Homo sapiens: one gene and its partners. The protein of the gene in region 2 purifies or fractionates together with the protein of the main gene of each other region. This does not show direct contact. Each region holds a gene or a part of one and is shown on either strand. Other genes may lie near its edges.

Region 1 (3,520 bases), on a different chromosome or scaffold from region 2:
GTGTATACATAGTTTAAAACATCACATTGTATTCCTTAACTATATACAATTTTTATTTGTCAAGTATACGTCAATAAAGCTGAAATAAAACTAAGTGTGCTGGATTATTTATTTCTTTGATAAAATGGCTCAGCCCCAGAATGCTCTTATGTACATAGGGTTAGCTTTTTTCTTAGGTTGGAGAGGAGATATTCCTCTACTTCTCTTTCTTTTCTGGACCATGTTTGCCTGTTTCATGCTATCATATCCCTGTTTCATGCTATCTTATATACTTTGCATACTTTGAGAGTTAAAGGTTTTCTTTTTTTTAAGTTAAGAAATAAGAGTTACTAATATTAGGACTTAAATACTAGCTGAACAGTATTCCTACTTACTAGTTTTAACTTGTCTAAAAGTTGGGGATAAATTATTTTTTGTTTGAGTAATCATCCATTTCTTTGGTTTCAGGCAATCTGAATATGGCGGTGTAGTGTTTGGTGGTTGGGCGCGAATGGCCCAGCCCATTGTGGCTTTCACTGTCGTTGAAGTGGCCAAACCCAACATAGGTGAAAACTGGCCAACCCGAGTTCGTGCAGATGTTACCATAAATCTCAATGTCAGAGATCACATCAAAGATGAATGGGAAGGTAAGTTTGTATTTCAAAAAGTGACATTACCTTTTGCCTTGTTATGAACTTTCACTTAGAGCATTAACAAAGTACTTTTACTAAATGTTATCCTTTAAAGCTTTTATTAAGCGTTATCCTTGAAATTTGATTTAAAGAATAGCAACTTTTTTTCTAATTATTAGTTTTAAAAATACCAGGGATCATACAAGAATATTTAGGTATCTTAATACTTTAATAAAAAGTATAAAATTGCATACATATCAACGTTTTGAAAACTGAAGTTTGCAAAGCCTAGAGGAGAGCATTTTAAGTCTTAAATTTAGCAAAATAATATTTATGGATTTCTGGCATCAATATAAAAGAATAAAAATATTAGTGTTCACCAAAGAGCAGGGAGAAAGCCCACATATAACATACAAACATGCAGAGCAGTAAGGAAAATTGGTATTTTTCAAAAGATAAAAGTAGCCAAGGTGAAAAAAATAGAAATACATACACTTTGTGGAAAATAAAAATTAGGCAAGCTTAAAAAGAATATGTGGGGGTGGGCAGGGCTATAGTGAAACAATTCAGAAATAAATAATAGTTTATTTGCGCCTAAGGCAGAAAGGATAAAGAGTCAGTGAAGTCAAATGTAGTCAAGGATATATAATAATTGCAAAGAAATTAAAGGAGTTATTCCTCCTATTTTTGCTAGGCAAGATTTTAAGGATTAGAGTTCCATGTCAAAATTAATTTGTTTTGGAGGCAGATATGTTCAAAATTACTAAGTCCAATAGAGTTAAAACATCAATAAGACCTCTGCCAGAAGTGACATATGAACTGATTTCTAATAGGCAGTTTTATATTTTTCTCCCAGCTGTCCTGTGAGAGGTCTTACTTAAAGCCCTGTTTTGAGAAACAGTAGTCAGTAGGTTTTACCTCCTTTTACCTTCTTGGCATGCCAGAAGGAAAGGATGTCCCTTAATGGATCTGTTTTCAGAAATTATTACTACCAGTGTAGCTGTTTATAATCATGGGAACTATATCAAAGAATTCTGAAGGAATCCAGCAACAAAGCTAGCCAAATGTTTAACAAATGCCTACTGTAGCGGGTATAGTTTATGACAGATTGTTTTATAACCCTTGTATCCTTCAAAAGAGTTCCATCCTGGTATATTACTCATCTAGACTAATGTGCACCTTTATTATTGCTGAGCCTCGAGAAAGCCATTAAGTTGCTGGAGAAGGTCTCATATTTATTATTCCTTGAAGCTTAAGGAGATATTAAACACTGTGGGTAATAAACTGAGATAACTTACTGGGTACCCCCAGAAGTAGTAGATAGTTGGAATTTTGTTTATTTTAAAGGACTCTATAGGAATTTATAGATGAGAGGTCTGCATTTTGGTGTTAAGGAAAACAAAAGGATGTTTAAAAACAGGCCACTTCCCCCATTACTGACTGCTTTCAGAAGGACATGAGACAGTCTTTTTTTCTTTTAAACATCAGCCTCTGGTAGAATGAGAACTGGACAGGGTACATTTTGATGGGCAAGATAGGGCACAATAGGGTATTGTGGGATGAGTGATAATCTGGGGTATGATGGAGAGAAAAGTGTTTTATGGGAGGCCTGGGCCAAAAACCAGCCCCTATATTGATCACAGATAGGGTAGCCAAATAGAAAATGGAGTAAAAAGGAGAGATTCTGTAAACAATAATACATTTTTTTTTTTTTTAGACGGAGTCTCACTCTGTCGCCCAGTCTGGAGGGCAGTGGCACAATCTCGGCTCACTGCAACCTCCACCTCCTGGGTTCAAACAATTCTCTGCCTCAGCCTCCCGAGTAGCTGGGATTACAGGCACCCGCCACCACGCCCAGCTAATTTTTTGTATTTTTAGTAGAGACGGGGTTTCACCATCTTGGCCAGGCTGGTCTTGTGATCCACCTGCCTCAGCTTCCTAAAGTGCTGGGATTACAGGCGTGAGCCACCGTGCCCAGCTGAATATTGTTTTATAAAAGTAAATTTTAAAGATTATTAAACTAAATACCATAAAACATTCCTTTTGTCCCTTTGAAAAGGTGTGAACCTCAAGCCCTTATCTTCTTCAATATTCTCATTTAAAGTTAAGGAAACAGAATTCATGAAATGGAAATGCCAGATTTGCTCCAGAAAGCACAGCTAGGATAGGGTGGATACAAATGGTTGCAAGGAGAGAGACATATAGGATTTTAAAAAATGTGGATCTAAGATGTCCCAGAGTAAAGTGGTTTGTTTTAGGAAGGAACAAGAGGTCATCCCTCAGTGATGCCAAAAAGTAACTCCTATCTTGGGAGAGGATAAATGACTTCTCAGGACCACTTCTTTGGCTGTAAGACTTAGAAGTTTTAATGAGCTGTGCAGATCAGACATCACACAGGTAGTACAACTCAGAGAGTAGGATGATTCCCATTCATTCTCATTACTTCTCTTGCTGCTTTGCATAGAATTTATTGGGAAATAATTAAGTCAGTATTATGAATAGAGTTATTATTTCTACCTTTACCCATACTCTAACCAGTCCCCCAATTAAAACAAACCAAAATATTTTCAGTACTATTAGCCATATGCCCACATTGTTGATTTGATTTCATTGTGTTTGTTGTTAACAAGGTTGTGAGCAAGCAGACTGTTTACATTTACATTTATGTCATGTAATGGCTAACAAAAACATCAGAAATGGAATGAAGATTAAGTGGTGTAGCATTACATGCTGTGAGGTCTAATTTTATAATCCTTGTCTTCCAGTTTCTCTACTTTTAATAGAGCTGGGAAGCCATTTGAGTTCTTTATTGGGTCTAGTGACCAAGAAGCTGTGGACTCTGGCACAAGTCTCCTTTTTCTTGACATTCACTTATAAAAATGTTCACGATTTGCCAACTGAAACTGTAT
Region 2 (3,396 bases):
TGCCCTTTAGGTGCCCCAGCTGTTGTCATATTTTAGAGGCCCAGTCAGCTAGTTTTCAGGTGGTGTCCCTTACTAATCCTGATTGGTTGACATCAAAACAGCATTCTTCTTCTAGGAAAATACATAAGCCACCTGTTTCAGCAGTTAGGAGATCTAGTCCCCTTCGATTTTGCAAAGCGACCACTGCCAAGGAGCCTATCCGAATTTGTAAGGTGACAATACTTTGAGCAATGTTATCCAGGCTTTCCATAAAATCCTTGGACAAGCGTTGGTAATAGGATAGGGAAGTTGCAATCCCGCTAACTCCCATTCCTACCTCTGCTGTTATTCCTAGCCGTTGTGTCTGGTGGTTGCAGTTAAAGGTATAATGAGGGATTGGTTGTTGGGAGCTATATTAATTTAGGGACATACAATATTTCTGTCTCCAGTCTACCACTTCCACCAAAGACAAATCACAGCAGAACCGACCTAACTTCAAAATAAACTGCAGTCCCATATACTGGGCCTGATTACCCACACAAAGTGCAACAAGAATCATTGTCCATATAGACTCTCCTAGATTGGCTTTGCTAGAACATTTCACAAGGCCATTTCAGTCAAAGTCCTGAGAAAGTAACCGGTTTCAATTGTGCCCTATTACAAAAGAAAACGTGGTTATTAACTTTATACAGACAAATGCCATGAATTAAGAATATTCATAAATAGTTTACAAATTCTGGAGAAATTAGAATACTCAATACACTTAAAGTGTATTTCAAGGCTATAAATAGCTCAAAATAAAAAGATTATTCAGACTCTGAAAAAACAAAAAGAAGTAGCAATATTTCAAACAACAAAAGCCATACAAATTATTTCAGTCTTCCATTAGTTCATTTCAGTCCATGTAATCAACTCCTGCTCTACTTCATATTCATCTTTATGAACACATCAGCCTTTCAATTAGTGCCTTGGAAGTTTTCTGTCTAATCCAATGGCACACTCTCCAAAGTTACCAGAAACCTGCATTCAAGAGTTCTTTTCATGAACTCCAAAGAAGTAAGCCTTGGACTGTAGCTGATTATAAGTCACTTTTTTTTTTTGAGAAGGATCAGAGCAAAACATCAATTATGGATGACAAAAGTCTTAAGACAGCCATAAAGACACAGTTGACAAATGTGGCTATTTCTGTGGCTTACAACAATTTAACATAATCATTACAACATATATTAAGACATATCAGAATTTTAGAACTCTCATACAATCCTGGAACACATATTAACAACAAATCTCTATCAGTATAACCCAAAGGAAGCTAAACACCACCTCACACTTGACAATGTTTCCTGTATAATTCAAACATTACAAATAAGCCTAATATAAGCCTAATATGTCACTCTTGAACTTCAGGAAGCCTAATATCCAAAAAGTTAGTTTAAGGTCAAAAGTTTTTGAATTAACTTTTTTCCATTAGTATGGTCATATCTTTCTTACTAATTTGTAAGTTATGTAATTTATCAATTTTTTTTTGTTGTTCTGTTTCCCAACCTCTATGTCAGATAAAGAATCACCCAGGCCAGACACAATGGCTCATGCTTGTAATCCCAACACTTTGGGAAGCCAAGGTGGGAGAATTGCTTGAAGCCAGGAATCTGAGCCCAGCCTGGGCGACAAAGCAATACCCCTATCTCTACAAAAAATAAAAAATAGCCAGGTGTAGCGACACACACCTGTAGTCCCAGCTGCTCAGGAGGCTAAGCAGGAGGATGGCTTGGGCCCAGGAGTTCAACGCTGCAGTGAGCTATGATTGCACCACTGCACTCCAGCCTGGGCAACAGAGTAAGAACTGTCTCAAAAAAAATAAAAAATAGAAATAAATTTTAAAAAAAGAATTACCCATATTCTCTTTGTTTTTGTTTATTCACATTAACCTTTATTCTATCTGGAATTTATTAGAGTATACTTTTTTCTCAAATAATCAATTGTCCTAGAACCATGTGTTTCTCATTTATTTGAAAGGCCATCTAGTGAGAGATTTCTCCAAATGTTGGGGTAGGGAAGGGAGGGGAAGCACTTTAAAGTCTGAGCCTTTAGAGGTGATTCCTCAAGACCCTGCTTAATCCTAACAATTTTCCTCATTAGTAAAAGTCAGCCCAAACTGGGGGCTTGTTAAGATCCTTACCAGCCACATCCATCTGAAATTATGAATTTCAAAGTATCTTACAAATTTGGTGCCACATTATCTTTTTTAAGTTTGTTTTGTTTTGTTTTTTTGAGACAGAGTCTCGCTCTGTCACCCAGGCTGGAGTGCAGTGGCGCGATCTCAGCTCACTGCAAGCTCCGCCTCCTGGGTTCACACCATTCTCTTGCCTCAGCCTCCCAAGTATCTGGGACTACAGTCGCCCGCCACCACGCCCGGCTAATTTTTTTGTATTTTTAATAGAGACGGGGTTTCACTTTGTTAGCCAGGATGGTCTCAATCTCCTGACCTCATGATCCACCTGCCTCGGCCTCCCAAAGTGCTGGGATTACAGGCAGGAGCCACCGCGCCTGGGCCTTTTTTTAAGTTTTAAGTACCTATAAAGAACACTGAAAGGTGATGTGTGTGGATGAGCTAGGAAGACCTGAAATAGGCTCTCTCTAAATTAATCAAATTAATCCTGAAGCCATTCTGCAATACTGTCTTTAATGTATACTCACTTGTTATAGAAGCCAGGGTTTTTTCCCCTAATTTGTATCATTGCTATATGTGTTATTGTACCAAACTACACTGTTTTAATTGCTGTAAATTTTAATATGTCTTAGTATCTGGGTGTGGGAATCTTGAAAGCATGGAGTTTGTGTTATTCACCACTGTATTCTCAAATATCAGAAGAGTATCTGGCCTACTAAGTGCACAATAAACATAGTTAAAATGAATGAGAGTGTTGTCTGTAATTTTCTTTTTATAGATGAGTAGGTCTCATGTGTAGACCCTGTACCATCAGCATCAGAACCCCTTAGAAACCTAAAAATTAAAATCTTGGTCCTTGCCTGCTGAATCAGAAACTGTATGTAAGGCCCAGTAATCACTGTAACATGCCAGCCAGGTGGTTCTGATATTCACTCACGTTTGAGAACCACTGATAAAGACTATAGTAGTCCTCCCTTATCCATGGGGAATACATTCCAAGACCTCCAGTGGATGCCTGAAACCACAGGTAATACTAAACTTTATATGTAGTATGTTTTTTCCTATATGTACATACCTATGGTAAAGTTTATAAATTAGGCACAGTAGAGATTAACAATAATAATACAGTAGAACAATTATAACAATATACTATAATAAAAGTTATGTGAATGGTTTCGCTTGCTAACAACAATAAAATAGAACAATTATAACAATATACTATAATAAAAGTTATGTGAATGTGGTTT
Region 3 (3,520 bases), on a different chromosome or scaffold from region 2:
GAAGCAGGCACATCTTACATGGCCAGAGCAAGAGGAAGAGAGAGAGGGGAGGTGCCACATACTTTTAAACAATCAAATCTTGTGAGTACTCACTATCACAAGAGCAGCACGAGGGGGAAGTCTGCCCCCAAGATCTAGTCACCTCCCACCAGGTCCCACCTCCAACATTGGAGATTACAATTTGACATGAGATTGGGGCAGGGACACAGACCCAAGCCACATCAGTAGCAAATCCTTACTTATCAGTACTAACACAATGTAAATGGACTCACTTCTCCAATTTAAAGGCAGACAGTGGCTGAATGGATCAACAAACAAGACTCAACTATATGCTGCCTAGAAGAAACTTGCTTCACTTGTAAGGACACATGGACTGAACATGAATGGGAAAAGATATTTCATGCAGCTGGAAACCAGTATAGGAATAGCTGTCCTTAAAACAGACTACAATCAAGGACTGTAAAAAGGAAACAAAGAAGTTTACTATATAAAGGGGTCAATTCAGCAAGAGGAATTTATATAACAGTATAAATATCTATGCAGCCAACATTGGAACTCCCAGGTATATAAACATTAATAGATCCAAAGGGGCTGGGCGCAGTGGCTCACGCCTGTAATCCCAACACTTCAGGAGGCCGAGGTTGGTGGATCACAACGTCAGGAGATTGAGACCAGCCTGGCCAACATGGTGAAACCCCATCTCCACAAAAATACCAAAATTAGCTGGGCATGATGGCGGGTGCCTGTAATCTAGCTACTCAGGAGGCTGAGGTGGGAGAATCACTTGAAGCTGGGAGGTGAAGGTTGCAGTGAGCCAAGATCGTGCTATTGCACTGCAGCCTGGGTGACAGAGTGAGACTCCATCTCAAAAAAAAAAAAAAAAAAAAAAAAAAATCTAAAGGGAGAGATACAATACAGTATTAGTATTGCAATACAATAATAGTAGGGGACTTCAACACTCCACTCTCAGTAATGGACAGATCATCCAGATAGAAAACCATAAAGAAACATCAGAGTTAAACTACACAGTAGACCAAAGAAGCCTAACTGACATTTACAGAACATTTCACCCAAATAATCTAATGATACACCTCAAGGAACTAGAAAAGCAAGGACAGACCAAATCCAACATTAATAGAAGGAAAGAGGCTGGGCATGGTGGCTCACACCTGTAATCCCAGCACTTTGGGAGGCTAAAGCAGGCAGATCACGAGGTCAGGAGTTTGAGACCAGCCTGACCAACCTGGTGAAACCCTGTCTCTACTAAAAATACAAAAATGAGCCAAGTGTGGTGGCGTACACCTTTAATCCCAGCTACTCAGGAGGCTGAGGCAGGAGAATCGCTTGAACCCGGGAGGCAGAGGTTGCAGTGAGCCGAGATCACACCATTGCACTCCAGCCTGGGTGACAGAGCGAGACTCCATCTCAAAAAAAAAATTAATTTATTAAATAAAATAAAAGGAAAGAAATAATAAAGATCAAGGCAGGAATGAATGAAATTGAGACCCCAAAAAACCCAAACAAACAAGCCAGAAGATTAATGAAATTAAAAGTTGATAATTTTAAAAGATACAATTGACAAACCTCTTAGAAAAAAAGAGAGAAGGCCCAAATAAATTAGAAATAGAAAAGAAGGCATAACAACTGAGACCACAGAAATACAAGGAATCAGGCTAGGCACGGTGGCTCATGCCTGTAATCCCAGCACTTTAGGAGGCCGAGGTGGACAGATTACCTGAGGTCAGGAGTTCAAGATGAAACTGACCAACATAGTGAAACCCTGTCTCTACTAAAAAATACAAAATTAGCCAGGTGTGGTGGTGCATTCCTGTAATCCCAGCTACTTGGGAGGCTGAGGCAGGAGAATCACTTGAACCCGGGGGGCAGAGGTTGTGGTGAGCTGAGATCACGCCATTGCACTCCAGCCTGGACAACAAGAGTGAAACCCCATCTCAAAAAAAAAAAAAAAAAGAAATAGAATCGTCTGGGTGCGGTGGCTCACGCCTGAAATCCCAGCACTTTGGGAGGCCGAGGCGGGCAGATCACAAGGTCAGAAGATCGAGACCATCCTGGCTAACACAATGAAACCCCATCTCTACTAAAAATACAAAAAAATTAGCCAGGCATGGTGGCGGGCGCCTGTAGTCCCAGCTACTCGGGAGGCTGAGGCAGGAGAATGGCGTGAACCCAGGAGACGGAGCTTGCAGTGAGCCGAGATCGCGCCACTGCACTCCAGCCTGGGCGACAGAGCGAGACTCCATCTCAAAAAAAAAAAAAAAGTTACTTTCAAAAAGCAGAAGGAAAGAGGATACATTTCTTCCTTACACTGTTACATACTAAAATGTTTCTTCTGCCTGGTGCAGTGGCTTGTGCCTGTAATCCCAGCTACCAGGGAGGCTGAGGCAGGAGGATCACTTGAGGCTAAGAGTTCAAGGCTGCAGTGAGCTGTGTTCACAAGTTTTAATTATTCTTAAAACAACTGTTTAAAATTTCTTTAAACTTGCTGTTTTGTTCCTGTGTCTTGTCTTTGGTTGGTATTTCAGTAAGTTTTTGGTATTCTCAAATTTTATCTAAATGGATAAACTATTAACATAGAACATAAACCCCAATTCTCCATTTCATTTTTCTCTTAGGCATGAATCATACAAAACTCAATATAGAGCAATGTTTGTAATGAATTGTTCTATTAACAAAGAGGAGGTTCTAAGATATAAAGCCTCAGAGAACAGGAAGAAAAGGCGGGTCCATAAGAAGATGAGGTCTAACCGGGAAGATGCTGCCGAGAAGGCAGAGACAGATGTGGAAGAAATCTATCACCCAGTCATGTGCACTGAATGTTCCACTGAAGTGGCAGTCTACGACAAGGATGAAGTCTTTCATTTTTTCAATGTTTTAGCAAGCCATTCCTAAACAGCCCAACTGGCATTTAATTACCCAATACTGTATATAAGGCAAATATGGACAGTTACTTTCCTCTTGCCTGTTCATATCCTTCAGTGACATTGAGGAAGCAGTGTTTCTCTTTTTAAAGGAGAATAGTTGTCAACCTTCATTCATCTCTTACATCTCTCACCCTCTCCTTTTTTTTTTCTTTGATTTTCCCCCTTATTGATGGGACTGATATTCATTCTGTTTTTGATGAACATTTGGAAACTGTCGGGCTTTTTATTAAAGCTCTGTAGAATTAAAATGTTCTGGAATTATAAGCAATCTTTGTTTCTGAGTGTTATTTTTATTTTGGATATAGCTTTGATGTAATTAAACTGGAAACTCTTTCCTGAATTGTCTGTATTGTTTTTGCTAAGATGTATCTTTATTCACCCCCACCCCACATGATGAATGACAGTATTTAGTAACTGTTACAATTGCGTGGAATAGGCTGGTAGCTTTGGCTCCTGCCTGTAATCCCAGCACTTTGGGAGGTCAAGGCGGGTGGATCAGGAGTTCAGGAGTTTAGGAGTTTGAGACCAGCCTGACCAACATGGTGAAACGCTGTCTGTCTCTACTAAAAATAGAAAAA
Region 4 (4,151 bases), on a different chromosome or scaffold from region 2:
ATTAATTACTATAAAAATAAATCAAAGAAGATTCTTACATGAACCTATGCAGGTAAATTCAGATTTTTTTCCCCCTGGTGGATTTGCTCTGAGTTGAGGTAATGAGAGCTAACATTGATTCAGTGCCTGCTATGTTTTGCACTGTTAGGTACTTTACATGTTATCTCATGTAATACCTCTTTAAACCTCATTTTACAACTAAAATTAAATGACAGCTAGGAGCTAGGAAATGGCAAAGTTACGATTCCAAGTCTGGACTGGTTGTCCACAAAAGCCCCTGCTCTTGCCATAATGATGCCACTTCTTTCAAAGAATTCAGAATTTTCTTCACAGCTTTAAAAATGCATAGATTCTGAAGCCTCTCACTTCCTTCCAATTAGTTGCCTACCTAGAAAGTTATTTCCTCCACTTGAGCTCATCACCCCTTCTTAGCGCTCCTTTGGATTACTGTAATTTCTTTTTCTTTGACCTCACCTTTCGTCTGATGGATTAGTGTAATCTTTCCCAAATTTGTTAATCTGAAGAATTCAGGAGCTTCTCAAAATGCAGGTTCCCAAGCCATGCTCCAGGACATCGATTCAGAATTGGATCAAGGCCTAGAATCTGTGTTTTTAACAAGCATTTGACTCAAGGGTATCAAATTGGAGGAAGCACTGAGTTGGTGGACTACCTTAATTGATCTACCCATTTTCAGTCTCTTCTGCCAACCCATTCGCTCCACCCCACCCCCAGTCCGTTTTTCCGTTTTGCCCTCAAGGTCCCTGAAGACTTCCATATCATTTCGCATTGTTTTATTTGGGGCACTGTGCCGCACTACCTGGGCCCACAGCAGGCGCGCAATATTTACTGACAAATACAACCCACGAGGTAGTTCCTATTATTACCCTTCAATTTGAAATTGAGAATAAAACAGAAGTCGACAAGTTGAGGTAGCTTGTGACATCAGTATTTCGTATTTAATCCAGAAAGCACTGCTTCAACGCCCAGTGCGTGCAAGGTTCCACTCTCGGGCCAGCGGTCCTCTCCCAAAGCCCGTTCTTCCTAAGTGTGCGGCCGCCATCCAGGACACGCCACGCTCGTAAAAGGTCACCTGAAGCATCTACCCTCCACGCTCAAGAGGTAGGCGGAGGAGCGCGCCCTTTTCTCCAAAATGGCTGAGCAGGGTCACGTGGGCTCGGGGGCGGGGCCGGTGCGCTCGCCGGAGCCTGGAAGTGGGTCACGTGGCTCAGACGGGGGCGGTAGCTGTGGGGGCGTGGCCGTCACACGGCGCGATCCGTCTGGGCAGCGGCTCTTCGGGGGCCACGCCCTCCGGGCCCTGGGGGCCTAGCGCGCGACGGTGGGGTGGAGCTAGCCTCGTGACCTTTTACCCCAACATGGCTGCGCCCGTGGGACCGGTGAAGTTCTGGCGACCCGGTAAGGCCCTTGGTGGAACGCTGGGCAGATGCGGCGGCCTGACTTCGGTCTTGGCGCCGCGGCCGGCGCCCTGGGGCCAGCAGACCTGCTCGCAGGCCTGACCTCGGCGAGCTGGGCGCTGCCGCCTCTGTGCGGGGGGAGCTCTGGCTCAGGCTCCCCAGTGGTCCCGAGGGATTTGGGGGTGCTCCCCTAGCGTGAGCAGAAACTCTTTGTGACCTTGTTAAAGTGGTCCAGCCTCCTCAGGCCTCGTCTTCCTCGTTACTGATGCTTGTCCTGCCCACCCCGCGAGATGGGGAATCCTAAAGCTCCCTCTCGTGTCTCGTTAGCGCCCTGGGGTTGCGCTGTGGCCCGACAGACAATGCTGCTCGCTGCTGGAGGCTTGCAAGCCCAAGTTATGGAGTCAGACTGTCCGGGTTCGAATTTTCGTCTCTGCCTTGTAGTAGGGTGACCTTGGGCGAGTCACTTAATGCCTCTGAGCCATGACTTCTTTACCTGTAAAGTGGGCAGAACAATAGCTTCTATGCTGTGGGCTTAAATGACAAGCAGAACGCGTTGTCAGACTTAGAATAAATGCTCAAAAAAAGGGAAAGTGTGTTATTTTCTTTTAGGATAATTGTTGTCCACTCCGAATGTCTACTAGAAAAGGGAACAGTCCTTCATATTGGCTGCCAGCCACTTCCTCTCTTACAGACTAACACGAATCACAATCACAAAATGCTTTACTTGTTTTGTCTTGATATTTACTCATTAATCAGGTTTTTACTGAATGTGCATATGCCAGACCGTACTAGATGCATTACTTCCTCTCTGCAAACAGTTTCTTGTAAAAAACAAAAGTTTTTAAATTACAGCTACCAGCTTGATTTTTTTCTACCACCTGCACCCCTGCAGGTCTGGATGTGCAAAGTATATTGCAGCAAAAATGAAATGACACCAAGAATGTAATATAAGCAAAGCTTTTAATTTTTCAGTGGTTCTCTGAAATTCTGACCATGCATATAAGTGATGTGAGAGATAAACCCAAGCAAGAGATATGTTTAATGCTTTTTAAAAATTTGTAGTCTGTCACTTGACAGTTTTATGGTTCAGCATTTCAAGTCATCAGCCAATTATCCATCCTGAGTTTTATTTGCATCCAAAACTAGGAACTTACTAAGTAATGAATACTTTTAATTTATTCACGCTTTTAGTAACAGGTGAAAGTGTTAGGTATAATAAAGAGCTGAATTAATTGTTTGAAATCAGACCAGGGTACTATTTTGGTTAAAGAACGTGGAATTACTCTTAAGAGTTCTATTTCATTATTTAGTTCATCCATTGAGGGTACACTTATTGAAAACCTAATCCTGTGTTCAGGAGACAAATACAGATGCTCAGGGCTCTGCTCTCAAGTTACTGTCTCTCTCTTAATTGAATATAAAGTTAGATGTCCTCTAGAAGAGATTTTACAATGAGACAGAGTAAGGTGGTGGTAAAGAAGATGAGCTCTAGAGTCAGACTGCAGTGCCCATCATGTCTACCACTTACTAAGTTGATGACTTGATAGTCACTTAAATTCTCAAAGTCTCAGTTACTCCATCTGTAAATTGGGTATAATACCTACCCTACCCAAAGTAGTGTTGTGAGGTTTAAATGAGAATAACACACAACAGGATCTTGGCACTAGATAGGTTACTATTATAATTATATGGAAGTATGGAAGAGGGAGGGAAAGTTGAATGTATGGATAAGAAATACTTCATTAAGGTGGTATTTTTGGAGTGAACATTAAAGGATGAATAAGGTTTTGTTTCATAGAGAAATGGAACTCGAAGCAAAGGGTGCAGCATGAACAAAGGCAGAATGGGATTTGTGCCTTTAGAATGTCCAGAAAGCCAAAATAACAGAGCAGTGTGATAGTGTTAAGTGCTAGGGTATATTTTGGGGTATGACAGGAGATGAAGCTAGAAAAGTAGGTAAGGGCCTCATTGTGAAAGGTCTTCATGACAAGTTAAAAAGTTTAGACTTCACTGTTTTTTTGTTTTCTTTCTTTTTTTTTTTTGAGATGGAGTCTGGCTCAGCCGCCCAGGCTGGAGTGCAGTGGCGCAATCTCGGCTCACTGGAACTTCCACCTCCCAGGTTCAAGCGATTCTCCTGCCTCAGCCTCCTGAGTAGCTGGGACTACAGGTGTGTGCCACCACACCTAGCTAATTTTTGTATTTTTAGTAGAGATGGAGTTTCAGCATGGTGGCCAGGATGATCTCAATCTTTTGATCCCGTGATCTGCCCACCTCGGCCTCCCAAAGTGTTGGGATTACAGGCGTGAGCCACTGGGCCTGGCCTGACTTCAGTGTTTTTAAGCAGGAACAAATCAGGTTTACTTTAGAAAGATAACACTGGCAGTGGAGTAGAGAGTGGATGGAGGAGGAAATTAGAGAAGGTACTAGTGAAATCCAGGAGGGATGTTAAAAACCTTAATTCTGACCTGGGAGCTTAGAGGAGGTGCCTGTTGGAGAGACATTTTAGAGGAAGATGTGGGAGAAGATGAAGTCAGTAATAACTCAGATTTCTGGGCTGGGTGACTGTCTAGGTTAGTGATTCTCTAATTTTGCTTTATAGTTGAATCACTTGGGAAGCTCTGAAAAGTCCTGATGTGCACTTGCACCTCACACCAATAAATTAGAACTTTGGAGGCCTAGGAGCCAGGCATCAGTGTTTTTTAAAGTCTCTAAGGAATTCCAGCATGCATCAAAATTTGG

What was found.
Region 1: the proteins of KIAA1143 (region 2) and AQR purify together in Homo sapiens (affinity purification with mass spectrometry; 2 studies listed by BioGRID and IntAct, with this or other methods). This does not show direct contact.
Region 3: the proteins of KIAA1143 (region 2) and EAPP purify together in Homo sapiens (affinity purification with mass spectrometry; 2 studies listed by BioGRID and IntAct, with this or other methods). This does not show direct contact.
Region 4: the proteins of KIAA1143 (region 2) and DHX35 purify together in Homo sapiens (affinity purification with mass spectrometry; 2 studies listed by BioGRID and IntAct, with this or other methods). This does not show direct contact.

What each region holds. Positions count from the first base shown.
Region 1 is NC_000015.10:34,907,241-34,910,760, reverse strand, and holds part of AQR (RNA helicase aquarius), read left to right. Parts: intron 1-447; coding exon 448-626; intron 627-3,520.
Region 2 is NC_000003.12:44,748,243-44,751,638, reverse strand, and holds the end of KIAA1143 (uncharacterized protein KIAA1143), read left to right. Parts: 3' UTR 1-2,895; downstream 2,896-3,396.
Region 3 is NC_000014.9:34,515,700-34,519,219, reverse strand, and holds the end of EAPP (E2F-associated phosphoprotein), read left to right. Parts: intron 1-2,633; coding exon 2,634-2,910; 3' UTR 2,911-3,282; downstream 3,283-3,520. UniProt on the Homo sapiens protein: May play an important role in the fine-tuning of both major E2F1 activities, the regulation of the cell-cycle and the induction of apoptosis. Promotes S-phase entry, and inhibits p14(ARP) expression.
Region 4 is NC_000020.11:38,960,995-38,965,145, forward strand, and holds the start of DHX35 (probable ATP-dependent RNA helicase DHX35), read left to right. Parts: upstream 1-1,349; 5' UTR 1,350-1,373; coding exon 1,374-1,413; intron 1,414-4,151. UniProt on the Homo sapiens protein: May be involved in pre-mRNA splicing.